Linked DNA regions of Homo sapiens: region 1 is linked to region 2. Evidence: fine-mapped expression QTL. A gene starts in region 2. The other region holds a variant in brackets. All regions are shown on one strand. Distances are from middle to middle.

Region 1 (16,659 bases), 940 kb after region 2:
TGGTATCAGGATGATGCTGACCTCATAAAATGAGTTGGGGAAGATTGCCTCTTTTTCTATTGATTGGAATAGTTTCAGAAGGAATGGTACCAGCTCCTCTTTATACCTCTGGTAGAATTCGGCTGTGAATCCATCTGGTCCTGGACTTTTTTTGGTTGGTAGGCTATTAATTATTGCCTCAGTTTCAGAGCCTATTATTGGTCTATTCACAGATTCAACTTTTTCCTGGTTTAGTCTTGGGAGGGTGTATGTGTTGAGGAATTTATCCATTTCTTCTGGATTTTCTAGTTTATTTGTGTAGAGGTGTTTATAATATTCTCTGATTGTAGTTTTTGTATTTATGTGGGATCAGTGGTAATATCCCTTTTATCATTTTTATTGCATCTATTTTGATTCTTCTCTCTTTTATTCTTTATTAGTCTTGCTAGCAGTCTATCAATTTTGTTGATCTTTTCAAAAAACCAGCTCCTGGATTCATTGATTTTTTTGAAGGGGTTTGTGTCTCTGTCTCCTTCAGTTCTGCTCTAATCTTGGTTATTTCTTGCCTTCTGCTAGCTTTTGAATGTGTTTGCTCTTGCTTCTCTAGTTCTTTTAATTGTGATGTGAGGGTGTCAATCTTAGATCTTTCCTGCTTTCTCTTGTGGGCATTTACTGCTATAAATTTCCCCGTACACACTACTTTAAATGTGTCCCAGAGCTTGTGGTACATTGTGTCTTTGTTCTCATTGGTTTCAAAGAACATCTTTATTTCTGCCTTCATTTCATTATGTACCCAGTAGTCATTCAGGAGCAGGTTGGTCAGTTTCCATGTAGTTGTGTGGTTTTAAATGAGTTTCTTAATCCTGAGTTCTAATTTGGTTGCACTGTGGTCTGAGAGACAGTTTGTTATAATTTCTGTTATTTTACATTTGCTGAGGAGTGCTTTACTTCCAATTATGTGGTCAGTTTTGGAATAAGTGCTATGTGGTGCTGAGAAGAATATATATTCTGTTGATTTGGGGTGGAGAGTTCTGTAGATGTCTATTAGGTCTGCTTGGTGCACAGCTGAGTTCAATTCCTGGATATCCTTGTCAACCTTCTGTCTTGATCTGTCTAATGTTGACAGTGGGGTGTTCAAGTCTTCCATTATTATTGTGTGGGAGTCTAAGTCTCTTTGTCGGTTTCTAAGGACTTGCTTTATGAATCTGGGTGCTCCTGTATTGGGTGCATATATATTTAGGATAGTTAACACTTCTTGTTGAATTGATCCCTTTACCATTATGTAGTGGCCTTCTTTATCTCTTTTGATCTTTGTTGGTTTAAAGTCTGTTTTATCAGAGACTAGGATTGCAACCCCTGCTTTTTTTTGCTTTCCATTTGCTTGGTAGATCTTCCTCCATCCCTTTATTTTGAGCCTATATATGTCTCTGCATGTGAGATGGGTCTCCTGAATACAGCACACTGATGGGTCTTGACTCTTTATCCAATTTGCCAGTCTGTGTCTTTTAATTGGGGCATTTAGCCCATTTACATTTAAGGTTAATATTGTTATGTGTGAATTTGATCCTCTCATTATGACGTTAGCTGGTTATTTTGGCCATTAATTGATGCAGTTTCTTCCTAGCATCGATGGTCTTTACAATTTGGCATGTTTTTGCAGTGGCTGGTACCGGTTGTTCCTTTCCATGTTTAGTGCTTCCTTCAGGAGCTCTTGTAAGGCAGGCCTGGTGGTGACAAAATCTCTCAGCATTTCCTTGTCTGTAAGGGATTTTATTTCTCCTTCACTTATCAAGCTTAGTTTGGCTGGATATGTAATTCTGGGTTGAAAATTCTTTTCTTTAAGAATGTTGACTATTGGCCCCCACTGTCTTCTGGCTTGTAGAGTTTCTGCTGAGAGATCTGCTGTTAGTCTGATGGGCTTCTGTTTGTGGGTAACTCGACCTTTCTCTTTGGCTGCCCTTAACATTTTCTCCTTCATTTCAACCTTGGTGAATCTGAAAATTATGTGTCTTGGAGTTGCTCTTCTCAAGGAGTATCTTTGTGGTGTTCTCTGTATTTCCTGAATTTGAATGTTGGCCTGCCTTGCTAGGTTAGGGAAGTTCTCCTGGATAATATCCTGCAGAGTGTTTTTCCAACTTGGTTCCTTTCTCCCCGTCACTTTCAGGTATGCCAATCAAATACAAATTTGGTCTTTTCACATAGTCACATATTTCTTGGAGGCTTTGTTCATTTCTTTTTTAACTTTTTCTGTAAACTTCTCTTGCTTTATTTCATTGATTTGATCTTCAGTCACTGATAACTCTTCTTCCACTTGATCGAATTGGCTTTTGAAGCTTATGCATGCGCTGCGTAGTTCTCATGCCATAGTTTTCAGCTCCATCAGGTCATTTAAGGTCTTCTCTATACCGTTTATTCTAGTTAGCCATTCATCTAATCTTTTTTCATGTTTTTTAGCTTCCTTGCAATGGGTTCGAACATCCCCCTTTAGCTCAGAGAAGTTTGTTATTTCTGACCTTCTGAAGCCTACTTCTATCAGCTAGTCAAAGTCATTCTGCATCCAGCTTTGTTCTGTTGCTGGCGAGGGGCTGTGATCCTTCAGAGGAGAAGAGGTGCTCTGATTTTTAGAATTTTCAGCTTTTCTGCTCTGGTTTCTCCCCATCTTTGTGGTTTTATCTACCTTTGGTCAGATGGGGTTTTGGTGTGGATGTCCTTTTTGTTGATGTTGATGGTATTCTTTTCTGTTTGTTAGTTTTCCTTCTAACAGTCAGGTCCCTCAGCAGATATTGCTGCCTGATCCTTCCTCTGGAAGCTTGTTACCAGAGGGGCACCTCCCTGTATGAGGTGTCAGTCAGCCCCTACTGGGAAGTGTCTCCCAGTTAGGCTACACGGGGGTCAGGGACCCACTTGAGGAGGCAGTCTGTCCATTCTCTGAGCTCAAACACCATGCTGAAAGAACCACTGTTCTCTTCAGAGCTGTCAGGCAAGGACGTTTACGTCTGCAGAAGTTTCTGCTGCCTTTTGTTCAGCTATGCCCTGTTCCCAGAGGTGGAGTCTACAGAGGCAGCAGGCCTGGCTGAGCTGCAGTGGGCTCCACCCAGTTCGAGGTTCCCCAGCTGCTTTGTTTACCTACTCAAGCCTCAGCAATGGCGAATGCCCCTCCCCCTGCCAGGCTGCTGCCTCACAGGTTGATCTCAGACTACTGCACTAGCAGTGAGCAAGGCTCTGTGGGCGTGGGACCCACTGAGCCAGGCATGGGATATAATCTCCTGGTATGCCATTTGCTAAGACAGTTGGAAAAGTGCAGTACTTGGGCAGGAGAGTCCCGTTTTTCCAGGTACCATCTGTCACAGCATCCCTTGGCTAGGAAAGGGAAATCCCCCCACCCCTTCTGCTTCCCAGGTGAGGCGACGCACCGCCCTGCTTCGGCTTGCCCTTCATGGGCTGCACCAACTGTCCAACTAGTCCCAATGAAATGAACCAGGTACCTCAGTTGGAAATGCAGAAATCACCTGTCTTCTAGTGTCGATCACACTGGGAGCTGCAGACTAGAGCTGTTCCTATTTGGCCATCTTGGAAGAATCTCTTCATTATCTTTTATGCCTTCACTAATTCACAGCATGATGCTTGCTCAAAATAAAGCAAACATGCTTTTCAAATAAAATAAAACATTTGGTATTAGATATCAAAGTACCTGTTTATAGATGCATGACTAAAATAATTTTACTTTATTCCCAAATTACACCTGGCTGCAGATGAATTCTAAGCCATGAGGCCTGTCACCTTCCACAGCAACCTGCACTACACTGTATGGGTCTCTTTTGTACAGTGATTTCTTCTGTTACCATCTCAAGGCCTCTCTTCCCCAAGACCCTAGAGCAGTTTATGTGCTTGTCTTGCAATTCTAGTTACTCCTCCTAGCCCTCCTTTCTGTTTCCCCTTCCAAGTCTTTCATGGTAAGGTCTGCTGCAACAACTGAGCCCTTAGTCGCATCTATTTTGTTCTTGGTTCCTGGGACTCATTGCTGTTCCTCTTCCTTCAGTATCCTCCCCTTGCCCCTGCCTCAATTCAGTCTTATAATAAAGTCTTCTTGAAATTTAAATACGTTTCTGCTTTCTTTTTTTTTTTTTTCCTTAAACAGCTCCATCGCCCAGGCACCCAGGCTGGAGTACAGTGGCATGATCTCGGCTCACTGCAACCTCGGCCTCCCGCATTCAAGCAATTCCTCTCCTGCCTCAGCCTCCTGAGTAGCTGGGATTACAGGCATGCACCACCATGCCTGGCTAGTTTTTGTATATATATATTTTTTTAGTAGAGACAAGGTTTCACCATGTTGACCAGGATGGCCTTGAACTCCTGGCTTCAAGTGATCAGCCTGCCTCAGCCCCACAAAGCGCTGGGATTACAGGCATAAGCCACCCCACCCAGCTGCTTTCTTCATAACTAGAGGCCACTACACAGAATTTACCAAACTCTTCTTGATAGTTCAGGATGCCCATCCTTCCAATAATAATACAGAGTTGCCGCTGGGGCTACTAAGCTAAATTGGGCTATTTGTGCTTTTTCTTTCTTTCTTTTATTTCTTCACCAAGACTCTTCCTTACACCAATATTTGTCCTTCTTTGAAGTGACTCCAGACAAGTACACATTTTGTAGTTTTATTCTTGCTTTTTCTATGATGTTCTTTCCCCTCTTTCACTGTCAGTGTAATAGAAGTCACTTGTCTCTATCTTCTGATTTGCTGCTTATTTTTTGGGAGCCATAAAACTAAATTTTTATGTTAGAATTAAGTCTAACATAAGAGAAAATACAGATCAGATCAGCTTTAGCACCTGGACTTTGAGATGCTGCTTTGAATTCTTGGTAAGTTTTTTAGCTTGATGGATTATTTTCTATTTCCTGAGAGCTGAGACTACTTTGTTAAATAACCACTGGGTACAAGAGAGTTTTTATAATATTATCACTATTGTTGACAGGAAGTAGTGGAGCTGAATCAGCAGGCTGATGTGTCCTCTAAATCAGTATTAAATAATGTGTTGTGATGATATGTACAGACCTCGGGTACTGGAGATGCCAGTTGCCAAACTGCATTACAGAACCAAGCCTTAAATTCCTTCTGATTATTAAGTATTCCACTGAGTGTGTGTGTGATAACAAAACAGTAGAGGATATTTTCTTCCCAGTGTTCTGCCAAATCTCAGCTTGAATTTAACACTTTGGCTGAGCACATTTCCCCTTTCTGTTTCATCTGGATAAATTTTGCTTTTTTGGCTTCCTGTCATAGAAGGTTATATTTACACAAAGGCCATATCTTATAACATCTCATCTTTGGATCGAAGGAATTTCACAGTGTACCGTCAAGCTAATTAGGAAGTAAAGCTGCTTAGTGTTAGCTGCTATGGAAACATCAGATACACATACATCAGACTATGTCATTTTAATTGGCATTGAGGAGAAGTGGACCTAACATCTAGGAACAATTGAAGCCAAAATTCTATGCTAACTTAACATGGCATTTTAAATTTGAAGTGAAAAGACTGTTTCTAGAAGGTGAAACATGTTCTTTTATGAAAAAACATGAAAAAAGGACACCTGAAATGAAAACAATATTTAAATTGAGTTCATGTGGTTTTATGGAAAAGTACCATGAATTTGCCTACCTTTGTTTCTGCTAAATCTAACCTCTTAGAAAGCTATAAAATCTGTATGCTCAAAGAGCTTCGCTGTGTGCATTTATGAGAACCTAGTCATTAACCCGCAGAATAGTGAATCAGCCAATAGTGTTTGCAGTCCTTCAGTATTTTTATAATTGGTGTTTTGGTTAAGATTCTTTCATTTATAAGAAAAGAAACTGACTTTAGCTCATCTCAGTGAAATAAGGGAGTGTGTGAAAAGGGCTGCTCACAAAATCAAAGGAAGAGCAGTGTACATAGTCTTTGGAGAGGACAGAAATGGGAGCAGATCCAGGGAAATCATCAGGGCTGGCTGCTCACAAATCCTCTCTGTAAGACACTCACATTGGATGACTCAGCTCTCAGAAACTTGCATTTCTGACAAACCTCAAGTCATTTTCAAATGCCTGTGGGGGGAATATCCTGTTGGCCCAGGTGGACTTAGAATTTCTGCTTTTGGATTAATAGCCAATGCAAAGGATACGGGGGAAGCATAAAAGGAAGAGTGATACTGACAGGGCCACTCAGAGAATCATGTACTGAGTAGCAGCCTGATTTGGGAATGCTATTTTTGATGAGCTCATAATCAGTTTCAAGATGAATTTAGTAATAAACAGAACTTTAGTTTTTCCCATATTTTTATCTTTATAAATTAATAATTTTAACACTTTATTAAATACCTACAGTGTACCAGGAAGAAGACGACACTCCAGATATAAAAAAATAAGCTCTAGCTCAAGTCAAAAATGCAGATGTGTAACTAAAGTGATTCGCAACGTAGCAGATGTAATGCAGGCTTGCACCTATTTAGGTAGTTATTAGAAGCATTGAAGAAAAGCATCAATCTACATAGACCTGATGATATCAGGGAAAACTTTATAGAGGAAAGAATCTTTGGGTTGAGTTTCAAAGGATAAGTGGGAATTTGCTATGAAACGAGAGGAGAGAAAAACTGTAGAAAAACTGTATTTCAAAGCATCCCGCATCTACAAAGAGCATGGCTCAGGTGGGAGCTGCAAATGGTTCAGTGTTTTTGGAAGTTTGGAATCTGAAGACGTTACTGAAAATGAGTCTGGAGAGAGAAGCAGTACCTGAAATTTCTGTTATGCACATTAAGACATTGGACAATGGAGAGTCATTAAAAGATTTTTTATTTGGAAAAGTATCATGATTGGAGTTGGTTTTAGGAAGGCAACTTTGGCCAGGCATAGTGGTTCATGTCTATAATCCAGCACTTTAGGAGGCTGAAGCATGTGGATCTCTTGAGCCTAGGAGTTTGAGACCAGCCTGGGCAAGGTGGCAAAATCTTGTCTACAAAGCATAAAAATTATCCATGCATTGTGGTGCATGCCTGTAATCCCAGCTACTCTGGCAGCTGAAGTGGGAAGATCACCTGAACCCAGGGGATTGAATCTGAAGTGAGCCATGATCTCACTATTGCACTCCAGTCTGGGCAACAGAATGAGACCCTGACAAAAGAAAAAAAAATATAGACAACTTTGGCAGCAATGTGGAAAAGAATTTAAATAAGAGAAGACCAGTATAAGACTGCTGCAATAGACCATTTAGGGAGGTCGAGAGAAATTCAGTCTTCTTTCTCAGGCAGCAGTTAAGATAGGGGGGTCACTAACTGATGTAAGCAACTTAAGGAATGTTAAAAAGTTAAAATCATTCAGAGGCTAAGGCATACTTGGGTCTGCAGTCGGAAGAGGAGGGAAAGACTAGAAACTTGTATTTCTGAGTCAACAACATAATATAGCAATTTTAAGTGTGAGTATTGATGAGGTTTCACATATAAAATATTAGAATATTCAGAGATCACCAGACAGAACCCTGGAGACAAGGGATGGATCAAGGAAAATAAGTCTGAGTTAGAAAATCTAAAATAGTAGGAAGAAGGCCAGTAGGGAGCAGAGTTACAGAGAGTAAACAGAGGAAAGGGAAGGGAGTTTCAAGAAAAAAGTATGTATCTGTTAGGATTATACTTAGTTGCAGGTTACAGTCCTTTCTCACA[T/C]AGACTAGATGTATAGTTAGGCAGCCTACACTAGTGTGGGGCCTCTATTATCATCCAGTTCTTTCTACATTCTACTCTGCATCTTAATCGTCCAAGATGGTTGCTCAAGATTCATCCCAGAAGGAAAAAGGACAGGCCGAAGAAGAGTGCATCACTACCTTGAAAGACACTTACTCTACATTTTATACAACATTTCTAATTCCAATCCATTGGCAGAATTTAGCCACATGGCCATATCTGACTTCAAAGGAGGCTGGGAAAAATAAATCTTATTCTAGACAGCCATAATTCCAGGTGAGCAATGGGTTCCATTTAATAAGAAAAAAGGGGAAAAAGGATCCTGGGAAGCAATTGGAAGCCTTTGTCACATAGGAGTTAGTGAACAATGACATAAATTGAAGAGAGTTGTTGTAAGAAAAAGACTGAAGAGTGTTTATTGCACTAACTAGTGACAATCTTGGCAAAAGTAGTTTCTTGGAGTAGTGAGAATGTAGGTCAAACTGCAGTAGATGAAGAATTGACTTTAAGATAAAGAAAATGAATATGAGTTGAAAATAAGCTGGGCTGCGAAAAGGAAGGTGAGAAGGAAGACTGTAGTTAGCTCAGCACCTTCATGAGAATAGAGCTCATGGATAAGACTTTGATGGGCCATGTGCAAACTGAAGCAGAGGAAACCAGTCATCATGAAGTTGAGAATGGAGCAACCTGCTTCTCCTGGAAACTTCTTCCAATGTCCTCCCAAAGCAGTTCCACCAACATGGGATAGAAGAATGAGAGATATCATATTTCTTGTTTTTGTTTTTGTTTTGAGATGGAGTCTTGCTCTGTTGCCCAGGCTGAAGTGAAGTGGCACAATCTCAGCTCACTGCAACCTCTGCCTCCCAGGTTCAAGCAATTCTCCTATCTCAGCCTCCTGAGTAGCTGGGACTACAGGTGCCTGCCATCACGCTGGGATAATGTTTGTATTTTTTAGTAGAGAGAGACGGGGTTTTACCATGTTGGCCAGGCTGGTCTCGAGCTCCTGATCTCAAGTGATCCACCTGCCTCACCCTCCCAAAGGGCTGGGATTACAGGCGTGAGCCACTGCGCCCAGTCAAGATATATCATGTTTCTTATATGATCCATTTCCTTGTCAGAATTAATTGGTAGTTAATCTAATCCAAATTGGTCTAAAGAATCCATACCAGTGAACCACCTGAATGAATGAGGAGTGGCTAATGTACTCAAATGAGCCAGTTTCCCCACCATGGGATTTTTAGATTTTATACTGGAGAAATACCAAATCAATTTCATTTCAGTGATTGAAACTATAAACTGTAAAATTCGTTGGCAATCATGTTTTCCATCATGTTTTGAAAAGCAACCTGCAATGAGGAAGACAAATAAAAATATAGAGAAATGCGAAGATGAAAGACTAACAGAAAGAAAAATGAGTGCTAGCACCATTTCGATCCTTACTTACTTCCGATTGTTCCTGAGACCCAGAAACATTATTTCTCTCAAGATCTGAGATAATCAGTATTTCTATAAGAAAATTTCTCTTTCTGCTTAAATAAATTGTAGCTGAGTTTCTGTCATTTACCATTAAAAATGTCTGATTAAAACTGAGAGGAACATGTTTATATGTTTAGAAAAAAGTCAGAAGAAAGGTTGAAGATACAAAAAGACTGAGAATTTGAGAGTATGTATATCCAAGATAGCAATCTTGTTTCTGCTTCCCTCTGAGGTAACAGTCCCTGCCCCAAATCACTATTCTCTTTATGACCTCAATCCCTAGACATAGCTGTTTGAATCATGAGAGGGCACCTGCCTTCCTTCTACATCCTAGATGAACTGGTCTGAGCACGTTCTTCTGTGAGGTTTATAATTGAGATGTGTGGACACTAAGCTCATAAAGAATCAGGGCTAAGACTATGATGGGTCATATGCAAGCTGATGCTGAGGAAGCCCACCATAAGAACGGAGAATGGAGCATTCTGCAGAGAGCAGAGGTGACTGGGCCTCTAAAGGGGTGGGGGTGATCGAGGGAGTAGACACTTTTTGTTTTTTTAATAGAGACAGGGTCTCACTCTGTCACCTAGGCTGGAGTACAGTGGTATGGTATCATAGCTCACTGCAGCCTTGAGCTCCTAGGATCAAGTGATCCTCCCATCTGAGCCTCCTAAGTAGCTAGGACCACAGGCATGTACCATCATGCCCAGATAACTTATTTTATTTTATTTTTGTTTTAGAGACACGGTTTTGCTATGTTGCCCAGGCTAGTCTTGAACTCCTGGCCTTAAATGATCCTCCTGCCTTGGCCTCCCAAAACACTAGGATTACAGGTGTGAGGCCATCATGCCTGGCTCCTGGGAATAGATGCCTTGATTCATGCCAATCTGTACATTGTTCAAGGGTAGGAGCTTTGGAATCACTTAAATCTATCTCTGAGCCCTGGCTCCCCTATCAACTTGTGTGACCTTGAACAAGTTACTTAACCTCTTTAAAACTCATTTTTCTCATCTGTAAAATGAAGCTAATAGTAGTATCGTTCTCACAGGATTGTTAGAATCAAAAGAAAGATGCATGTGAAGTGCAGAGCAGTGTCTCACAGTAAACTCACAGTTAATGCTAATAACATAGCATAATCATATCCAATGCTACATGTAATAATTATAATCAAATACAATGACATAAAAGGTAAGCTCTTTCCAGTTCCAATTCTCATTAATCTCAGATACTGTCTTCATTTCTCAATGAAATCTGCGTATCCTTGAAATATCTTTTCTTTCTATTTGCTCTGGTTAGACTAAGAATTTGTTCTTGACAAACGCAGTGAGAATGTTTGCATCCCAATCCCCAGGGTGAGCTTGGACAAGTTACTTCCTTACCCGACATTCAGCAACATTGCCCCCTCCATCCGTCCTGAGCGCTCTCTTCTCTTGGCTTCTGTGACCAAGAGAAGCCAAGGAGTCTCCTGGCTTTCCTCCTACCCACTGGCCATGGTGTCCCTCTTATCCTGGCTCAGCCTCTTCTGCTTGTCTTTAAATGCTGCATATTCTCAATAATCATTCCTAAGTGTCCTCATTTTTCTCACTTTGTATTTTCTCCCTAGGCTATAATATCGGTGCATGGTATCAATTATCATGTAATTTAAACTTTGACTCCCAAAAGGTTATCTTCAGCCCAAACCTCTCCTAATCTCCAAATCTGCATATCTCACTACCCACTCAACATTTTACCTGGAGATCTGAACGAAAGATTCATCAAAATCTACAAATTCAAAACTGATCTCATGATCTTTTCCTCTAAAACTATTTCTCCCGACCCAAGGGTTTTCTATCTTGATACCACCACCCATCCACTCTTCCAGTTTTGCAAGCCAGAGACCTGTAGACATCATCCTCTGCCTTGCGTCTTAGTCCATCAAGACTTGTTGATTTTACCATCAAATTGTTTCTTGACTTTGTCAACTGCTTATTCTCTATTGCCATCACTCTTATTCTAGCCATCATCATCTTTCTCTTGGACTCTCACACTGTACTCAGAAATTGTCTCATTGCATCCCATTTTAATCCATGCTATAGTCAAAGTTTTATTTTAAAAATAAAAATATGTTCAATGCAATAGCTTTCCATTGCTCTTTAAGATAATAATCAAACTCCTTATGGCATACAAGGATCCTCTGTGATCTAGCCTCTCGGGAAGAAAAGGAGTGCGTTGGATCTGGCTCATACTGGCTGGCACCTGCATGCAGATGGTTAAATATTTTGGAAATTTGCAAGCTGATTGCTGAATCATTGGATGTGGGGAGAGTATGTATCCTGTGGAAACTGGCAAATGCTACAAAGGGTTTTCCCCACACCTCCCCTCTCTCCTCCATGCAGGAGAACCAGTTTAACAGCACTCGGTTCTCTCTCCAGGCTTAACCGTTCTTTCATTCCGTACTTTAACCACATTGACCAACTTTAAGTTTCTCTAACATGTCATAGTTCCTTATATTTAAGAACTATCAAATATATTGGCTGCCTTTCCCAGGAAACTATAAACTCCAAGAAGTCAGTGACTCTCTGTTTGCCCAACATTAAATCCTCAGTGCTTTTCAGTGCCTGGCGCATAGTTGGTGCTAGGTAAGTACCTATTGAATAAGTGCCTGCTCTCACATGGATTTTACAGATCTCAAAACAATGTGATGTCTGTGATAATGCCCTAAAAATGATGAAATAATACATAGATATGATTATGGATATTAAAATGTTTCCTGAACAAATAGATTTTTTCTATTTTTATTAGTTTTTTCTATTTTCCACTTAAGATGGTATCACAATTTATTTTCTAAATGATGAAATGTTTGTTTCTCTAAAGCAGTCATAATTGAATCATGATATTAACATATATTTAACTTGAATTAGATATGACTTTTGTTATAATAAAATTATGTTCCCTAGCAAGAAGACTCAGGCAAAAAAAAATGTTTTTAATTATGTCAGAGTAAATGAGGGTGATATTTTCAATGGAGCCTTTAAAAATTCTTCTTTCCTATTTTAAAATTAGCTTTCCAGAAATGCACACTCTATTCTTTATATGCTGATACAGCTAAAACATAATAGTAAACTATTTTCTCACGAAGAGATTTGTTTAAATTATCAGAACTCTCTTGGAAAACACTTTCAGTAACTTATTTAACTTGAATTCTAATGAAGTGAAAATTGCATCATCATCATAATTATTAAGATTATATCCACTGGCAAAATTTTCCATTTATATGGAAAAAATATGTTCATTGTTATATTGGTATTTTTAACCATTCATACATTTTTCATTCTTCTCTCTTCTCCTCCAGTGAATATTTTTTTGGTCTCTACGGTACTCAAGGCAAATTATATTTAGTTTAACATGTGAACTAATTAGTAAAGGCAATACTTTTTGCAAATATCATATTTTACTTGGTATATCTATTTCTCCCACATTATTGCATCTTAATTTGGGGATACTAAAATTCTCCACCATGGGATAATATAGGCTAAGAGTTGCTACTATTTTCCATAATTAGTGGTTGTTGTTTTTTAATTTTTATACAAGGTGTGATTTAGTAGATATGTTTTAGATTGACTTTGAGGATCTAGTCAATCTCCCATGGTTTCAAGTCCAAATTATCTCCATATTAGGCATAACAGAAACAAAGATGCTACATAGAATAATCAGACTAAGTGGTCAACTCTCAGTTCATGAGTTGGCCTCTCCCACTGGTTTTCTTATTCTTGTATCTGGATGTCTTCCAGTGATGCAATGTTCCTTGCTTGTAAAATTGCACATTTATGCATCACCTTATTAAATTTGCTTGTGTGTCTATCATTCTGAAAGTGCTTCTTGTTCTTTAGTGAAGCATTGTTCTAGTTATGTGTTGTCTTTTCCTGTCAGTACACACTATTTGTTGTAATTAGTCTCTGGCTTCAAGTCTATACAAAATGAGCAGACATTTGCACAGTCTTTCAGTTGCATCTGATCATTGTGGACAATAAGCCAATGATTTAGACAAAAAATAACCTCATTCTTTTCCTTTATAAAAGAAATAGTTTGTACTTTTTGCTTGGATCTTATTTGTACTTCATCTGTCCTCATGTTTGTCTAGATAGATTTACCTTATATAAACATTTTTCTCTTTTATTTATTTATTTATTTTGAGACAGGGTCTCACTCTGTCACCCAGGCTGGAGTGCAGTGGCACAATCTCGGCTCACTGAAACCTCTGCCTCCTGGGTTCAAGCAATCCTCCTGCCTTAGCCTCCCGAGTAGCTGGGATTACAGGCATGCACCACCATGCCCAGCTAATTTTTGTGTTTTCAGTAGAGACGGGGTTTCACCATGTTGTCCAGGCTGGTCTCGAACTCCTGATCTCAGGTGATTCACTTGCCTCAGCCTCCCAAACTTCTGGGATTACAGGTGTGAGCCACTGTGCCTGGCCTCCACCTTTTATTTTTAAACCAAGCATTATAATATAAATACCAGTAACGTTGTTCTGTTCAAAATTTAGTATTTTTCCTTTTTATGTGACTTACAATTTGTACATCTTATTAGACTTTCTCCCTCAAGCTCATGCACTACACCAGGCAGAGAAATTCATGAAGATATGCATTTAGGTAATGGCCCTCAAAAAACAAAACTGGCTTAATGTAAAATCGTTGTTGTTGTTTTTTTTTTCTTTAATCTTCCCCAACTTAAATCTTTTAATTTAAAAGTAAACTTTACTGTCGAAAACGCAAACTTGGGGATGGCAGAAAGATCACACACAAGGCTGCCACTTCACACCTGGAGGGTTGCACGGCAGCCAGGCAGAGGCGCTCCTCACTTCCCAGTTGGTGCAGCAGCTGGGCAGAGGTGCTCCTCACAATGATTTTTTTTTTTTAATTATCATTAGGTACATGGTTCATGTTTGTAATCCCAGCACTTTGGGAAACTGAGGCAGGAGTATCACTTGAGCCAAGGATTTCAAGAACAGCCTGGGAAACACGACAAGACCTTGTCTTCACAAAAATTAAAAAATTAGCCAGGCATGATGACATGCACCTGTAGTCCTAGATGCTCAGGAGGCTGAGGGGAGAGGATTGCTTGAACCTAGGAGGTTGAGGCTTCAGAGAGCCATGATTGCACCACTGTACTCCAGCCTGGGTGATAGAGTGAGACCCTCATCTCTAAAAAAATTTAAAAATTAATAAATAAATAATACATTTTCAAATACTATGTCCAACACACCTCTGGCATTTACTCCACTCTTGCTTTCTCCAATATTCCCTAAGCCCCTCAGATTAGGCCAAATCTCTTCATTAAATGCTCTTATAATACAATTTTCTTTTCTTCTTTTTTGAGACGGAGTCTCACCCTGTCACACAGGTTAGAGTGCAGTGGCGCGATCTTGACTCACTGCAACCTCCACCTCCCAGGTTCATGTGATTCTCCTGCCTCAGCCTCCTGAGTAGCTGAGATTACAGGTGTGCACCACCATACCCGGCTACATTTTGTATCTTTAGTAGAGATGGGATTTCATCATGTTGGCCAGGCTGGTCTTGAACTCCTGGCCTCAAGCAGTCCACCCGCCTCAGCCTCCTAAAGTGTGGGCTCATGTCAGCATGAGCCACCGAACCTGGCCCTTACATATGTAACTTTTAACTCAGTTTGTAATTATATATTTATTTTGAGATCAGTTGATTACTAAGTTTCCCTGTAGACTGTAAGCTCAAGGAAGGCAAAGCTTGCATTAATTAAGGTACAGGCTAAAGTGCTTTAACAAATAGAACTCCAAATAATGTCACTTATACAAGCTGCACATATATAATTTTTTCATATAACCTTCTAGCTGATGGGATTGCTCTGCTGCCCTCAATATGTAGCTTCCATCTCTCAGTCAAGCTGCCAAGTTCTTGCTACCTCTTTGTCAATAAGAAGAGGAAAAGGATGAGAGGTGCATAAGTTGAATACTTTAAAAGCTGAGCTCTCTAAAGTAGCAAACACTGCTTCCACTCATTACATTAGCCACAACTTGGTCACATGAGTACACCTAATAGCAAAAGAACCTGCACACTGTAGGCTTTAGCTGGCAATTATCAATACTAGGGAAGGAGAGGAAATTAAATATAGGGAGACAGGCCAAACACGGTGGTTCATGCTTGTAATACCAGCATTTTGGGAGGCTGAGCCAGGCAAATCACCTGAGGTCAGGAGTTCGAGACCAGCCTGGCCAACATGGTGGAGGTTGCAGTGAGCCGAGATTGCACCACTGCACTCCAGCCTGGGTGACAGGGTGAGACCCTGTCTCAAAAAATAAATACATAATATAAATACAGGGAGACAACTAGCTGTCTGCCACAGATCTGTGTCTTATTCATGAACACAGTGTCTCTGGAGCCTACCACAGTGCCTGCTCCAGAGCACCTGCTCAACAAATACTCATAAGATGGATTGATGAATGGACCTCACATCTTCACGCCATCACTGACATCACCCATACCTTATTCTCACCCCTTCCCTCTCCTCTACCCAAGGCAGCTGTGGATCCAGGAGACCAGGAGACCCAGGAGATTTCCAGAAGCATGAGAGTAACTGTATGTACAGGTTACAAAGTGGCTTTCTTGCAAGGGTGAAGCTGGTGAGGTTGACTGGTATCTGTGCTATGAGAATCTTTATGGGTTTTTTTTGTTTTTGTTTCTGTTTTTTATTTTTTTTTCTTTTTTTGAGATGGAATTTTGCACTTATTGCCCAGGCTGGAGTGCAATGGTGCGATCTCGGCTCACTGCAACCTCCACCTCCAGGGTTCAAGCGATTCTCCTGCCTCAGCCACCCAAGTAGCTGGGATTACAGGCATGTACCACCATGCCCGGCTAATTTTGTATTTTTAGTAGAGACGGGGTTTCTCCATGTTGGTCAGGCTGGTCTCGAACTCCCAACCTCAGGTAATCCACCTGCCTCAGCCTCCCAAAGTGCTGGGATTACAGGCGTGAGCCACCGTGTCCGGCTGAGAATCTTTAATTCCTGAAATGAAGTGAAGACTTTTCAGAAGATATCCAGGTGGGTGGGTTTTCCAGGTCCAGTCATCTTTGCCACATCATCCACCACTCTAAGTTGAAAGTGTGGCAGTTTCCTCTTCTAGTTGAACAGAGAGGTTGTTGAAATGGAAACACACACATACCACACACATCTCCAAAAACCCAACATTAATTCTGAGTGATGGTCCTGTGCAAATTCAGAAAAAGAGAAAAAAATTTCGTTTTTCACAACTGAGCTACACTTCTCATTATCGATGAAAACAGATGGGAAATAGGACAATGACTCTTCAAGGAAAATGTAATTGCGACTGTCTCTATGCCCACCTAGCACTTTCCATAGCACTTTTCATGTGGTATTATAGTTAATGACATTGTGAGATATTTGTGAACTGAAAGCATATCTTGTTTTTATTTATATTTTCCCAAGCACTGAGTAGCACATATTAGTACTCAACAAAAGTCTGTTGAATGAATCAGT
Region 2 (16,659 bases):
AAACCCCCAAATTTAAAGGTTGGTGTGATGATTAATTGTATGTGTCAATTTGGGCCATGAGGTGCTCGGATATTTGGTAGAACAGTATTCTGGATGTTTACATGAGGGTGTTTTTGGAGGACATTAACATTTCAACCAGTAGATGGACTAAGGCGGACTGCCTCCCTAAGGAGCTGGGCCTTATCTAATCAGTGAAAGCCTGAATAGAAAAAAAAAAAAAGCTGACCCTCTTCCAAGTAAGGGAAACTTCCTTCTGCCTGATTGTCTTTGGGATAGGGCATCGGCTTTTTCCTACTCTAGGATTCAAACTGAAACAATGGCTTTACCTGGGGTCTTGAGCCTGCTGGGCTCTGGACTGAAACTACACCATCAGCTCTCCTGGGTCTCCAGCCTCCAGCTTGCCTACTCACTCTGAATATCTTGGGACTTGTCAGGCTTCATAATGAAGTGAGCCATTTTTAATAATAAATCTCATTTTCTCCCTCAATACGTATACATGGTTTTGGAGAACCCTAACTAATACATAATACAGTTGAGTATAGAAAGAAGAACCCAAGGAATTCCAGAGAGCATGGGTGGGTAGCAAATGGAAAATGTAAATTCAGGAAGAAAGTTTCCTGCTAATGAGAAGAAATTCCAGAACATGTTAGTATGCTGATGGCAATAATAAAGAAGAGTGAATGGAGTTGGCAATGGAGGCTGTAAGGGATAAAATATTATATGTTTGGCAAGAGTGCAAGGTTTTGCTAGGCACATAGGGCTAGTGCAGCAAGCTTTCAGTAGTGAAATGGTGGCAACCAGGTCAGAATTTCTTGGAATGAGGGTAAATCACACCTTCCTCGGTGGTGAGATGGGGATATGGGTACTGCTTTTCATAGAACAAACTGTCCGGCCAGGGGGATGGTGGCTCACACCTGTAACCACAGCACGTTTAGAGGCCAAGGCAGGTGGATCACCTGAGGTCAGGAGTTCAAAGCCAACGTGGTGAAACTCCGTCTCTACTAAAAATACAAAAATTAGCCAGGTGTGGTGGTCCATGCCTGTAGTCCCAGCTACTCAGGAGGCTGAAGCAGGAGAATCACTTGAACCCGGGAGGCGGGGGTTGTGGTGAGCTGAGATTGTGCCACTATACTCCAGATTGGGCAACAGAGTGAGACTCTGTCTCAAAAAAAAAAAAAAAAAAAAAAGGAACAAATCTTCCTTTTCTAGAGGACAGAAAGGAATAGATAAACCTTACAAGAGCTGATGACAGAATGCCGTCATGCCCCTAATATCGCTCTGTGGTTATATTTCAAAGAGTTGACAGCAATAGAATGACATTGACTTATTCATTCTAGGCCAAGGAACTACTAAATTCTTTAACAGCCGAATTACTTTGGCATGAATTATCTGGACTTTTCAACACTGATCTGATGTTTATACAAGTGTATTTCCTTTCAAATAGTCTTGATGCTTCCTTTTTCTCTTTCACACTTTACCTACTTTTGTAATATGCACAAATAAGATATGAAACACTACAAAATAGGGTGTAGATAAATTTCGATTAGAAAACTGTATAAAATTAAACAAAAGAACAAAAATGTAGAAATTGGGTTTTAGCAATGTGTTCTTATCTGACAATATAGGACAAAGAAATGTTTGGCTCTAGTTTCCGAAAGCTATCATTGGAGAGGTGACTGGGGAAGAGATTTATTGAAGTTATCCTTTCAATTTTGGTCTGAGAGTCCTCATCTTGGTGTGAAACCTTGGTCACCTGAGAAAGTCCTTTAACCCTTTTGAGTCTCAAATTCCTCTTTGGGAGATTGCATTATGTAAGACTAACCTTAGGATAACCTTAGGAATAAGAAAATAAAGAAATCGAAACCCCATATAGTATCAGCTCCATAAAGTCAACAATCTCCACAAGCTATCAAGTGATAAGACATTCTTGTGGGTAGTACATCCTGGTTGTACAAATCACAGGACTCAATGAATAAAGGAAGCTGGGCACAAATTGGAGAGCATCTTGGACTTGGGACTCTGCAGACTGGTGCTATGTCCCTGACTGTGTGGCTTGCCTCTCTAGGGGACTGGGGAACCTTGCTCATCTAAGTTTCGTGCTTGGTAAAAATCAGATGATAATAGCTACTTTGGTTCACATTTAGAGTTTTTAAAAATAATACCTGGGGGCTGGGTGCGGTGGCTCATGCCTGTAATCCCAGCACTTTGGGAGGCAGACGCAGGCAGATTGCCTGAGGTCAGGAGTTTGAGACCAGCCTGGCCAACATGGTGAAACCCCATCTCTGCTAAAAATACAAAAATTAGCCGGGCATGGTGGCACATGCCTGTAATTCCAGCTATTCGGGAGGCTGAGGCAGGAGAATTGCTTGAGCCCAGGAGACGGAGGTTGCAGTGAGCCAAGAGGGTACACTCCAGCACTCCAGCCTGGCCAACAGAGCAAGACTCTGTCTCAATAAATAAATAAATAAATAAATAAAAAGAATACCTGGAAAAATGTGCATCTCAGGGAGAGTCTGTATACATGCCCTAATAAAACAACATGAACTTATACTCTGATATTTCCTTAATATGTTACTGTGTTAATTAAATATTTTTATGGCTAGATTTGTAATTTACAAGTGCTGCTTTATTATGACACACAGTGTCATTGAAGAGGAGAGCGGACTTCAGCACATTTTGTTCCTTAAGGGAGCTTAAATTGGATCTAACCAGTTCAAAAGTGAAGTGAAAAAAAAACACACATCTCCACTGACCAAAAAAAGAGTGAGGTGGAGATGATGACCATATCGTGGGTCAGCATTTCTGGGTTATTTGGTTAGTGTTAGTCTTTTTGTTTTTGTTTTTTGTTTGAGACAGGGTCTCACTCTGTCACCCGGGCTGAAGTGCAGTGGCATGATCACAGCTCACTGCAACCTCCGTCTCCTGGGCTCAAGCAATTCACTGCAACCTCCACCTCCCAGACTCAAGTGATTCTTCTACCTCAGCCTCCCAAGTAGCTGGGACCACAGGTGGGTGCCACCATACTTGGCTAATATATATATATATTTTTTTGGCAGAGACAGGGTCTCACTGTGTTGCCCAGGCTGGTCTTGGACTCTTGGGTTCAAGCAATCCTCCTGCCTTAGCCTCTCAAAGTGCTGGGATTACAGGTTGTGCCCAACCAGTGTTAGTCTTCTTTTACTTGATTACACTTAATGGTTGTAAGCCTGGAGACAGAGGCTCCTTGTTAAAGAGAAACCACACAAATAGTTATGAAAGTTATTTAGTAAGTTAATGGATTCATTGATTTGAAGAAGTAAAAAGATGTTTGTTTCCTCAGTTGTTTTTTTTTTTTTGAAAAAATTTCAAACCTACGGAAAAAAAGTAAGAATATTATCATGAGCTCCCAAATATCCTCCAGCTAGATTAATCAATTATTTACTGAGACATTTGGAAGTCAGTTTCAGACATCAAGATATTCAGCCCTAGCACTTTAGGAGGCCGAAGCAGGTGGATCACCTAAGGTCAGGTGTTCAAGACCATCCTGACCAATATGGTGAAACCTGTCTCTACTAAAAATAGAAAAATTAGCGGGGCGTGGTGGTGTGTGCCTGTAGTCCAGCTACTCAGGAGGCTGAGACAGGAGAATTGCTTGAACCAGGGAGGAGGAGGTTGCAGTGAGCCGAGATTGCGCCACTGCATTCCAGCCTGGGCAACAGAGCAAGACTCAGTCTCAAAAAAAAAAAAAAAAAAAAAAAAAGTACTTCAGCCCTGTAGCTTTAGTGTTGAACTCTTAAATCATTCTCAGTACCATTATCACTCCTGAGAGAATTAGTATCAATTAATAATATCACATAGATGCTGTCCATATTTAAATTTCTCCAAATGTCTCCCAAATATTTATTACAGCTTTTATGTAACCTAGAATCTAATTAAGTATCATACATTGCATTTAGCTGTTACATATCTTTTGTCTCTTTTAATCCTAGACTGTGTGAATATCCTATTCCCCAATATCCTTTCATCCAGAAGTTTTAGTACCCATTACTGATCCTTGCCTGAATCAGAGATTATACAGAGATTATATAGGCCTTGCAAAAATGGTGGTTTTAAAATTTTATCATTTCATCTGTATTTGCTAGTGGACATAAAGAAGATCTCTCATTCTCTCTCAGCATCACTATGCACTGATGGATATTTGGTGGGTGGGGAGTTATAATCTATTACTATCATTATTTCTTTTGATGGTCAAATTATCCCAAATTTGTCAGCAGTTCCTCCTTCAAGCTACCTTATTTGTGCGTATCTGTGTATGTGTGTGTGTGTGAATGTGTCTGTGTGTGTGAATGTGTCTGTGTGTGTGTGTGTGTTTGAATGCTTTCTAGCTTTCTGGCATAAGAAATATGTTCTAGGCTCATCTTAGTCTTTCTCTGCTCTAGACCTGAAACTGTTATGTAGGTAGTCAAGCAGACCTAAGCAGGGCAGGAGAGCCCCTACTGCCCCCCAACCAAGAATGTCAGACAACCATCAGGTGATGGTCAGGCGGTTATCAAACTGCTTCTCTAAAATAATAATTGGTTGCAGCTGGCATCAGGAAAAGGCAGTCTCCCAAGAGATAGAAACACTTAAAGTTGGTGATCAGCAGCTTCCCAGTAGGATCTCAGGAGTTGGTTGAGTGGTCTCAAGCATGCACACTAAGAGGCAAATGGCAGAGTTTAACTGGTATATGACCTTCCTTTAGGAACACTCAACTGGTAAGGAAAAAACCCCTCAAGTGAGCATGTGCACAATTTTGGTAAACACACTGTGCATACAGCCCCTTTCAAGTGTTGGCAGTCCACTATGCCTGCGGACAGCCCACCCCAAAGAAGAATCAGGGAAGAAGGATTGCAAGACCCCAGAAGCATGCCAATGTATAAGACCCCAAGTCAAAGGTCAAACAGTGCACTTCAATCTCTCAAGTTGCTGGCTTGGCCCTCTTCCAGGTGTACTTTACTTCCTTTTGTTCCCTCTAAACTTGTTAGTGAACTTTCATTCCTGCTCTAAAACTTGCCTAGGTCTTTCACTCTGCCCTATGCCCCTTGGTCAAATTCTTTCTTCTGAGGAGGCAAGAATTGAGGTTGTTGTAGACCTGTACAGGTTCGCAGCTGCTAACAAAACTAGTCACTTCTCCAAATAGCTCTGGTTCCTTCGAAGGGGGAATGGTGTTTAGGAAACAAGATCTGGGTGCTAGTGTTTAAATCACCTTTGCAAAAATCATAATAGTGAGAAAATTGTAACAGTGAAAGAGGTCTTACCTAACCAACTTCATCTTGCCTTTCACCTCCAAACTGCCCTTGATCATTTCTGGGTGTGAACCAAGCTAACTTTGGGAGAAATTTAGTTTATAATTTCAATGGTAATAACCCTTCCCAAAGCCATTTATTTGTTCTGTAGCTCACGACATTTTCAACTTCCCCAATTACTCTCATAAATAACATCACTATTGTAGAACCTGAGATTGACCTTTTGAGATGTTTTTTCAGGCTTTTGCATGTATGATGACCAGATGGCCCCACCCAGACCAGCAACTCCTCTGTGGCCCCCACCCAAAAGTGGACTCAGCTCATGAGGACCATTTTCTACACCACCGTAATTGCATTTCCAACCACTCAGCATCACCCATTCCCTAGCCCCCTGCCTGCCAAACTATTCTTGAAAAACCCTAACCTTGGAATGTGGTGGGAGGCTGATTTGTGTAATAATAAAACTTTGAGTAGGGCATGGTGGCTGACACCTGTAATTTCAGCACTTTGGGAGGAGGCTAAGGCAAGAGGATTGTTTGAGCCCAGGAGTTTGACTGGGCTCATAGTTTGCCTGGGCAACACAGTGAGACCCTGTCTCTCCCCACTACAAAAAAAAAAGTTAGCCAGGCATGGTGGCACATGCCTGCAATCCCAGCTACGTGGGAGGCTGCGGCAGGAGGATGCTTGAGCCTGAGAGGTGGAGGCTGCAGTGAGCTGTGATTGCACCACTCCACTCCAGCCTAGGTGACAGAATGAGACCTTGTCTCAAAAAACCAACCAAACAAAAAAGCTCCAGTCACTCATTTAGCTGGCTCTATTTCAATTCCCCTGTCTTCATCAATAATTAGTTCTGCCTAGGAAATGGGCAAGATGAACCCATTGGGCAGTTTCAGTGTCTCATAGCAAGGGGTAGATTCAGATTTGTAGAGCCTGAAGCTACTACAATTTTGGGACTTTTTTTTTTTAAAGAAAAGGAATGTAAAGTTACAAATATAAAATTAGTATATGGCTTTAGAAGTGGTCCCTCAGTGAAGGGCTATATATTTTAAGGTTTATTAGCTTCATTATTATTGGGATATTATTGTTCTTGGGATCTTTCAGTGAAGAGAATGTTCAAATGCAACACCACGGGTTTATTTCTTAGCTTCTGTCATTTCCTATTTTGTATAAACCAGAATGAAAATCATGCTTCCAGAGATTATCAATATATTTGTTCATTTGCTCTATCTTACTATTTTCACACAAGTGGTTTCCAGCCAGGCACAATGGCTCATGCCTGTAAATCCCAGCACTTTGGGAGACCGAAGTTGGTGGATCACTTGTCAGGAGTTCCAGACCAGCCAGGCCAACATGGTTAAACCCCGTCTCCACTAAAAGCACAAAATTGCCAGGGCATGGGGGTGGGCACCTATAATCCCAGCTACTTGGGAGGCTGAGGCAGGAGAATCGCTTGAATCCGGGAGGTGGAGGTTGCAGTGAGCCGAGATTGCACCACTGCACTCCAGCCTGGGTGGCAGAGCAAAACAACATCTCAAAACAAACAAACAAACCAATAAAAAATGGTTTCAGAAGCATAACACCAATATCCTACCAAAAACAAACCTACTAGTAATGTTCAAGATTTTCTTTCATTTCTTCTTAATATGTTATATGTCCTACTAAGGATATATAGCCAAAGTACTATAGTCGAACGCTATTTAACTTTTTCTTTATGGTTACATTATCAATTCAATATACAATTAATTTTAATTGTTTCTGTTTGAATTCAATTTCAGGGTTTGCTTTTTTATTCTCTTTAATTTAAATTTATTTTTTAAAAATGCAGAACAATGTTAAAAGAAAAATCTTAGACAAATTAAATTGAACAGAGTTTAATTGTGCAAAGAACAATTTGCAAATTGGGCAATGTCTCCAATCAGAATAGGTTCAGAGAGACTCTGGCCCTTCTGTGTGGTTAGATTGATGGACAGAGAAAGGAAAGTGATGGACAGAAAATGGAAGTCAGGTACAGAAACAGCTGGTTTGGTTACAGCTCAAAGTTTACCTCAGTTGAACAGGGTTTGAACAGTTGGCTGCCTTTGATTGGCCAACATTCAGTGATTGGCACAAGAGTGGGCTACAGTCTATTTACACATCTAGTTAGGTTAGAGTTCACTATATACACAGAAAACTTTAAGCTGGACTAAAATATGTAAGGAGGCAGCTTTAGGCTAAAGTTAATTTACGACATTTATGATTAAAAGTCAAAAAGATACACTGAGAAGTTTCACTTATCCCTCTCCCTCTGTTATTGGAAAGAGGTCCCAGTCCAGACCCCAAGAGAGGGTTCTTGAATCTCATGCAAGAAAGAATTTGGGTTGAGTCCACAGAGTAAAGTAAAGGCAGGTTTATTAGAGAAGTAAAGAAAAAAAGGGGCCGGTGCGGTGGCTCACGCCTGTAATCCCAGCATTTTGGGAGGCCGAGGTGGGCAGATCACGAGGTCAGGAGTTCGAGACCAGCCTGACCAACATGGTGAAATCCCGTCTCTTCTAAAAATACAAAAATTAGCCGGGCGTGGTGGTGGGCGCCTATAGTCCCGGCTACTCAGGAAGCTGAGGCAGAAAAATCACTTGAACCTAGGAGGTGGAGGTTGCAGTGAGCTGAGATCGTGCCACTGCTCTCCAGCCTGGGCGACAGAGAGAGACTCCATCTCAAAAAAAAAAGAAACAAAAGAATGGCTACTCCATAGACAGAGTTGCCCTAAGGGCAACTGGTTGTCTACTTTTTATGGTTATTTCTTGATTACATGCTAAACAAGGGGTGGATTATTCATGAGTTTTCTGGGAAAAGGGTGGGAATTTCCTAGAACTGAGGTCTCCTCCCACTTTTAGATCATATAGGGTAATTTCCAAATGTTGTCATGGTATTTGTAAACTGTCCTGGGGCTGGTGGGAGTGTCTTTTAGCATGTGAATGCATTATAATTAGCATATAATAAGATTTGAATGGAGTTGCTGTGGTTCCATTGCCTCTGACACTTCCACCCCATTCACACTCATCCTCTATAAGGAACTATTTTTATTAATTTATGGCTTTTTCTCTACTTTTTTGGTAAAAATCTGAAAATATGTGTGCAGTTTCTTATTTCTATTTTTTTCTTAAACATGCAGTCTATTATATACACTCTTTTGCTCCTTTGCTTCCCCCGCTCCCGCAACCTCAATACATCCCAGGACTCACTTTATATCTGCTCTGCTCATGGAGATCTTCATTCTTTTTATAAATGGACAATAGTCCATTGAATGGCAGCTGGGCGCAGTGGCTCACATCTGTAATCCCAGCACTTTGGGAGGCCGAGGCGGGTGGATCACCTGAGGTCAGAAGTTGGAGACCAGCCTGGCCAACATGGTGAAACCCCATCTCTACTAAAAATACAAAAATTAGCCACTAGTAATGCATGCTTGTAATCCCAGCTACTCTGGAGGCTGAGGCAGGAGAATTGCTTGAACCTGGGAGGTGGAGGTTGCAGTGAGCCGAGATCGCACCATTGCACTCCAGCGTGGGCAACAAGAGCGAAATTCCATCTGAAAAAAATATATATATATATAAGTCCATTGAATGATGGATGCTCTACAGATGACCTAACTAGTTTCCTATGAAAGGTAATTTGATTGTTGCCAATACTTAGGTTGCTGTTTTAGAAAATTATATAGACTGCGCTATGAATTTAAACAAGAAGGAACTTGAAACCACTACTGCAAAATTATAATTGAAACAGTGAAAGAGATTGGACCTAACCAACTCTATCTTATTTCTAACTTCTAAGCTGTCCTTACTCATTCTTAGGCATAGGCTGAACTAACTTTGAGGAGGAACATAGTTTATAGTTTAGAACAAAGACAATAACAGCCCTTTCCCAAAACAAACCTTCTTTCCTGGGGACTGGACCGCCTTTGCAGGACTAACAAATTAGCCAAAAGATTAGAAATTATGGTTTAGGAGTCATACAGCTGGAGGCTGTATGATTCTGACCCTCCCCAAATTGCTCCTGGGAATAACATCACTATTGTAAAGCCTAAGACCAGTGCTTCAGATATGTTGCAGACCCTGCACTGGATGGATCAGCAGGCACCACTCAGCTCGATAAACTGGCTCATCTGATCCCATGGCCCCCACCCAGGAACTGACTTAATGCAAGACAGCTTTGACTCCCTATGATTTCACCTCTGACCCAAACAACCAGGTCTCCCGACTTACTGGCTCTCCTCCACCCACCAAATTGTCCTTAAAAACTTTGATCCCCAATGCTTGCGGAGACTGATTTGTGTAATAATAAAACTCCAGTCCTCTGCACAGCCGGCTCTACGTGAATTTCCCTTTATGAATTGCAATTCCCCTGTCTTGATAAATCAGCTGTGTCTTGACAGTGGGCAAGGTAAACCCATTGGGTGGTTACAAACTGTGTACCCAAGCAATAAAAGTAACAATTTGGGAAGTATTTGAGACCCACCAACCAAAATTTCTTTAACAATTTTGGTCTATTCAGTCATTCATCCATTCATGTAACCACTATTATTGGGTGTCAAGAACTGATACTTACTTAGAACGTTAAGAGCATTATTCATCTTGACATACCAAATCATCCGAGTTACTGAAAATTGGTTTACTAGGTTCCTTACAAAGAGGTTGCTTGGATTTATAAAATATGAGGCAGTTGACCCGAGACAAGGACGTAGAAAGTGGTTCATGTACCCAATTTTTATTTTTCACTTTGAACCCAGAACATTCACGACTCCAGGCCAGAAATTCAAGACTCTGCAGCTAGTTCTGACTCCAGTCCTAGGGTAACAAGCCCACCAAGAATCCAGGGCAGATGTCCTGAAAACCCTTCTTGCGGGGTCAGGAGGGCAGCAGAATTTTGGGACCAAATCTCAACAACTGGTTTTGGTTTCCTCACTCACCAAGCCACAAGCCTGCAGAGTGAGAAGAGGTAAGGAAAGGATGAATGGGCAATGGAGCCAGCCCAGGACCGGGAGCTGGTCCTCTCTAACAGCGACCCCGCCCGCTTTAGCTGAGCGACCCGGGGCAGGTTACATAGTGTCTCTAACTTAAGCCACGTGTTTCTCGAGGAAATGCTGAGAGGATCTAATGGGAAAACGTGGGTACACGTCTTAGCTAAGACCCTCGCCCACGATAAGCCCTTAATAAGTAGTTATTTTTCAGTGGTGGTGATTACCATCGTCATTATTGTTTTGTATTTGTAATCATCACTGCCACGACCATCACCGACCTCTTTTACGCCTCCACCGGGATCCCCACCTCCCAGCCTGGCAGTTCCAGGCTCTGGTGACTCATTCACTTCCTGGAAGTCCTCTAGGCAACACTTTCCTCTCCCGAGTGACGACTCCTCAGAAGGCAGGAGATCCCCCCCGGAAACCTTTCTCTCTCCGTCTCTCCCTCTAACTCAAATCTCTCATTCCCGAGTCCAAACTAAGAGAGACTCGCGCCCCAGGAGTCAGCCAGCGGCGCGGGCGCCTTCCCCGCACGCCTCTGCCGTCTGGAGGACGCAGGCGGGAGCGCCCCGGACCGGGTTCACGGTCTCGCACTCCTGCCGCCGGCGCCCCGCGGTCCCGCCCTAGCAGGCTCCTTCCCGGGCCCCTCCCCGCTCCCTCCTCTTTCTCGCTGCTCAGTCACATCTTTCTCTTCCTTCCACCCCGAGGGACCATGTCGAGGCTCAGCTGGGGATACCGCGAGCACAACGGTGAGCGCCTTTTCCTGATCCAAGGGGGGGTTTGTGCGGGGGACGAGAGGACTAGCGCGACGCCCCGGCGCTCGCTGACCACACACTGGGCTCGCACATTGAGAAACTTTTTCGGTTCCTCTTTAAACTAAGCAGCACTCCTGGGAGCCCAGTGCGAGAAGCGGAGAGCAGTCTTGTCAGGGTAGACGGGTTGTTGGTGGTGGATGTGAGCGTTGGTGTGTGTTATCTCTGTCAGGATTCCCCAAACTCCCAAGTGTTCATACGTGTGAGTTCACCTTCATCTGAAAAGCCAAGGACTTTGCCTAGTAACAGCCACGTATCAATTACAGGCTTGGAGATCAGAAGTCTGATGACACACTTCAGTGAAATAAGGACAAGTTCGCTTTCAGTCTTTTAAGCTCACTATTCACTTAGGAGAAACAAATCATAGAAAATCTTTAAAAATATATTTAGGAAATCTTAACTTGCATTGTGACACTGAAGATTAAGTTGGCTTCGTGGCAAACAAAATACTGCATGTTTCCTAATAGTTGTTACTGTAAATATTCCCACAGCAATTTGCAGTTGGCTGACTACTACTGGGGACTTTAGTAAGGGTTCAGGTTCTCGCTGGGAAATTAAGTTACATTGTGGGTTACTTCTCCACTCTTCTTCTCCACGCTCATCCTTGCAGGGTGAGCAAAGGATTACTGAAATTATAATTCATTGATAGAAATGTATTAATAGGATAAATAATAATGACATACACTTTTCTTCTTGTATATCACACATTATCAAAAGTAAAACATTTTTTCTTGTTCCTACGTTAAACTGAACTGATTGTTTAAATAATAATTATTTGAAATAATCGCAGTGACACCAAAAAGCCTTATAGTGAATAACTGTCAAAATTAAGGCTTAGTTTAGCCATTCCTCAATGTGCATATATTTCAAAACATCATGTTGTACACATAAATATATACAATTTTTGTCAATTTAAGAAGTAAATACATAATAAAGAAAAAAATTAAGGCTGTGAATAATAATGCTTTCCTTCTATTAGCATGTACATGATTAAACAGTATAGAATGGTCAAATTTTATAGAAAGTTTAATTTCACAAACTAACAGAAAAATTCTATTTCTAATTGTAGCCTGTTTAATTTCTAATTGTAGCCTGTTTTTAAACATGCTAGTTTAAAAATGGCAGCAGGTGAAATTTATAACTTTAATAATAAAAGGTGTATAGTCAGATTTCTTCTTGATTAAGGCCATAATTATAATCTTACATTTTGCTAATTTCCAGTGAATGTTTAGGGGGAAAATATGACAAATCTTTTTTCATTTCCCTCTCTGCTGAAGTCGTTTTTATTGGAGTTATTTAATAGTCATTGAATCCCAACTGCGCCTTTATGGTAGTTAGGAAGAAGAAGGGTATTTCAATCAATCAATCAATGGATATTGATTACTCTTTAGTAGGTTAGAAATTATTCACCTGAATGAAGCTTATTTCAGCAATTTTAAAAATTCATCTTAGCAAAGCCATTAATAAGGAGTGATTTTGTATTTCTGTTAGGAATTGTTCTGTTAGGAATTAGCCATTCCTTTCTTTTAGATGCGATCTCTCTCTGAAGACCACATCCTTACTTAAAGGTGTGGTCTTCAGAGAAAGATTGGGAAAATCCTATTGGAAATGTATTATATACTAACTAGGCAAGTTTTTTGTTTGTTTGTTTGTTGTTTTTGAGATGAGTCTTGCTCTGTTGCCCAGGCTGGAGTGCAGTGGCACTATCTTGGCTCACTGCCATCTCCCTCTCCTGGGTTCAAGCGATTCTCCAGCCTCAGCCCCACCAAGTAGCTGGGATTATAGGCATGAGCCACCATGCCTGGCTAATTTTTGTATTTTTAGTAGAGACAAGGTTTCGTCATGTTGGCCAGGCTGGTCTAGAACTCCAGACCTCAAGTGATCTGCCTGCCTTGGCCTCCCAAAGTACTGGAATTACAGGCATGAGCCACAGCTCTGGGCCTAACTAGGCAAGTTTTTTGTTTTTTTTTTTTTTTCTGTTTAAACATTGGTAAACCAGTGACTGAGCAGATAAAAGGAAACTTAAGCTGGGAATAGCAACACTGATAAAATAAAACATCAAGACTTGAAGCCCTGAAAGGGTACTGCCTTCACAAATAACTTAGGATTCTTCCCCTAACCTTTGACTACTTTATTAGTTTAGTTTAGCGAATGTGACATCACTGAAAAGTGTATATCACTGTAGGTATTTAAAAGTTCCTAAATCAGTTGAGCAACCACCACATATCTCTAATTAAGAATTATGCTGGCTGGGCACGGTGGCTCATGCCTGTAATCCCAGCACTTTGGGAGGCCAAGGTGGGTGGATCACCTGAGATCGGGAGTTCAAGACCAGACTGACCAACATGGAGAAATCTCGTTTCTACTAAAAATACAAAATTAGCTGGGCGTGGTGGTGCGTGCCTGTAATCCCAGCTACTTGGGAGGCTGAGGCAGGAGAATTGCTTGAACCTGGGAGGCAGAGGTTGCAGTGAGCGGAGATCACGCCATTGCACTCCGGCCTGGGCAACAAGAGTGAAACTCTGTCTCAAAAAAAAAAAAAAAAAGAAAAAGAATTATGGTGGCTTGCACCTGTAATCCTAGCTACTCAAAAGACTGAGATGGGAGGATTGCCTGAGGCCAGGAGTTCCAGACTAGCCTGCAGGGTCATGGGGGGGACAAGGAGAAGGAGGAGAGGAGGAAATTTTTTTTGGAAAAATTGAAAAAGGGGACCTCTTTAAGAGGCAGGGTACTGAACTGACTATGGTAGTTAGTAGATAATATTGGGAATGTGATACAAACAATTATTACTTTTATTTTATTTTGGTTTGACTTCTTTTTAAAATAGTTCTGTTTATAAATGACTGGAAATAGGAGAGCAAAGCAATTAGGAGAAGAAAGCAACTCTATTGATTGGAAGAATGTCACCTGCATATTGTAACACATGCATTGCGCATTTGAAATTGAATTTTCGTTAGGTTAACTCTTACTTGGTGGCAGTGAAATAGAAGGCTTTTTCTGAATTAAGGGGGAAAAAAGTCTAGGTTATATATAGAAAAAGTACTCAGAAAGATGGTGAAAGTATTGAATAAAAAAGGCTTTTTCTGTAATACATTCTAAGCAAGGACTTCTGATGCTCAAGTGGCTTTGAAGTCCAGTTTGTCAGATGACATCTTTTAAGCTGAGTGTATAGTTATATATTTATGCTATGACTTTTTGTGCCTGAAGCATATATGAAAGAATGTATGTATGTGTGAGTTCTCTTTTGCAAAAATGAGGCATAGTAAGCAGTATCAGATTTAGAGTTTGGGCCAGGCGTGGTGGCTCATGCCTGTAATCCCAACACTTCAGGAAGCTGAGACATGCGGATCACTTGAGCCCATGAGTTTGAGACCAGCCTGTAGTGAGACTTTCAACAAAAAAAAGTTTTTTATAAAAGTAGCTGGGTGTGGTGGTGCACACCTGTACTCTTAGCTACTTGGGAGGCTGAGGTGGAAGGATTGTTTGAGTTTGGGAAGTTGAGGCTGCAGTGAGCTGAGATTACACCTCTGCATTCCAGCCTGGGTAACAGAGCAAGACCCTGTCTCAAAAAAAAAAAAAAAAGATTTAGAATTTTATGCTTTAAAGTTTGTTGATGATTGTGATATATTGCATTTCTTTAAATATTACTCTAAATTTTATCATTTTAAAATGTTTTTGGTTGTCGTTAGTAACAGGTTTAATTAATTGTCATGCTATGATGTTTTAATTAGTACTTGATTTTTAGTGAAAGATTGGTTAGCAAAGTAGGTGGGTAAACCTTAGTCAGTAGCCCAGTGTAGGTGGTGATAGCTGTATAAATTTCAGGAATAGTAGAGAGAATAAGAACCTATAACCTATAAAGTGACTCACATCTGTAGAATGACATGGAACTTACGTGAAACTACAGCTTTGCTGCTGATTTTGAGAGGCAAGACTTTATAGAGTCTTCCAAAGAAGTGAAGAGGATTGAAAAGGGAACTGTTAGCTGATTGGCTCGTTTCAATTTCCCTAACATGTCTGATTTGTGAACTTGATACGATTTTGACGTTTTTGAGTAGAGGACCAGGATGATACCTTTCTCTTGTGTTGAAATTCAAATGTAACATTGGCAAAATAACCATAGAAGAACCTTCTGAAATGAAGAAAGAGAGAAATAAATTACAATCTGACTCTACTGCAGATAATCAACAATATTACGTTTCCTGACGTGGTGCAGCCATTTTATTTGGATTATCCTAGGTGAAAAATTTGTGTGTTTCCTTGGTATGCCTGTTGCACATCACAGGTAATTGAGTGGAGGCCTGAGTGACACTAGACGATAGCATTGAGTGATAGAAGGAAGAATAAAGAAGTAAGCACAGCATCTTTAAGAATGACACCCTTTCTTTGCTTCATGGCTTTCTCAGCTTTTTTGACTCTTCCAATCTGCAAACTTGAACTCTGGAGCAATAGCTCATTTTTGGAGCTGAGACTGAATGTCATTGTTTTCAATGATGAGTTGTATTATTGTTTTTAGTTTGGTAGAAGGTTACCTTTGGAGAGTATTTTATAAAATTTACAGACTCTTGTCTACAAGGGTTACTTTAATTCTGAACATGACTTAAGGCACACCAAGAGTTTCCCACATCTATAATAAAAACAACTAATCTTGTAAAAAAAAACAATTAGATGCCAAGGTCCTGAGGACGAGAATCTCATTTTATTAATCTTTGCGTTTTCTTCAATTTCAAGCACAGTGTGTTATACTCAATGTATGTTTGTTGAAAGAAAGAACTTATTTAATCCTTTTCTTTTGGTCCTATATATTTAAGGTCCTATTCACTGGAAGGAATTTTTCCCTATTGCTGATGGTGATCAGCAATCTCCAATTGAGATTAAAACCAAAGAAGTGAAATATGACTCTTCCCTCCGACCACTTAGTATCAAGTATGACCCAAGCTCAGCTAAAATCATCAGCAACAGCGGCCATTCCTTCAATGTTGACTTTGATGACACAGAGAACAAATCAGGTTGGCTTTTCTTTTTTTGTGTGTGTGGTGGTGGATGAAGGGTTTGAATGATTAGACTATACTCTTTTTTTTTTTTTTTTTTTGAGACAGAGTCTCGCTCTGTCGCCAGGCTGAAGTGTAGTGGCGCGATCTTGGCTTATTGCAACCTCCGCCTCCTAAGTTCAAGAGATTCTCCTGCCTCAGCCTCCCGAGTAACTGGGATTACAGGCGCACGCCACTATACCCAGCTACTTTTTTTGTATTTTTAGTAGAGACAGGGTTTCACCATGTTGGCCAGGATGGTCTTGATCTCCTGACCTCGTGATCCGCCTGCCTCGGCCTCCCAAAGTGCTGGGATTACAGGCGTGAGCCACCGCACCCAGAATACACTCTCTAATCTTTCATGTTTTGTTTTTGCTAGACCTGGAATTTGTCAAATTGAAGCATATTTTTCTTCGTGTGAATTAAGATATCTTGTTATATATTTGAACCTTCAGATAATCTTACCTTAAAATAATAAAGAGTATTTGGAAAAGGATATGTTGCATGATAATTTAAAATTGACCTTAGCTTGTTATTATAACTTCACTTAGCATTTACCATTA

Alleles and levels. Positions count from the first base shown, and alleles are read on the strand shown. Sizes are in standard deviations (SD) of each study's normalised expression.
For the expression in lung of the gene that starts at base 10,596 in region 2, C is the low allele of the variant in region 1 and T is the other (moderate effect, 0.45 SD a copy in GTEx).

Evidence for each region. PIP is the estimated chance that this variant, and not a neighbour inherited with it, causes the effect.
Region 1: its variant is fine-mapped to the expression of CA13 in lung (GTEx, PIP 0.96).

What each region holds. Positions count from the first base shown.
Region 1 is chr8:86,170,967-86,187,625 of GRCh38, forward strand. LOC105375623 (a long non-coding RNA gene) reads left to right here and starts at 9,502. Exons shown (of 5, transcript NR_188044.1): 1 at 9,502-9,653; 2 at 15,681-15,740. The variant T/C (reference allele first, on the strand shown) is at 7,663.
Region 2 is chr8:85,234,863-85,251,521 of GRCh38, forward strand. It overlaps CA13 (carbonic anhydrase 13), which reads left to right and starts at 10,596. Exons shown (of 7, transcript NM_198584.3): 1 at 10,596-11,003; 2 at 15,878-16,075. The coding sequence starts at 10,967. It overlaps LOC105375936 (a long non-coding RNA gene), which reads right to left and starts at 8,623. Exons shown (of 3, transcript XR_929126.3): 1 at 8,483-8,623. LOC124901969 (a long non-coding RNA gene) reads left to right here. Exons shown (of 4, transcript XR_007060985.1): 4 at 2,857-3,008. RefSeq lists a silencer at 10,851-10,930 and an enhancer at 11,291-11,400.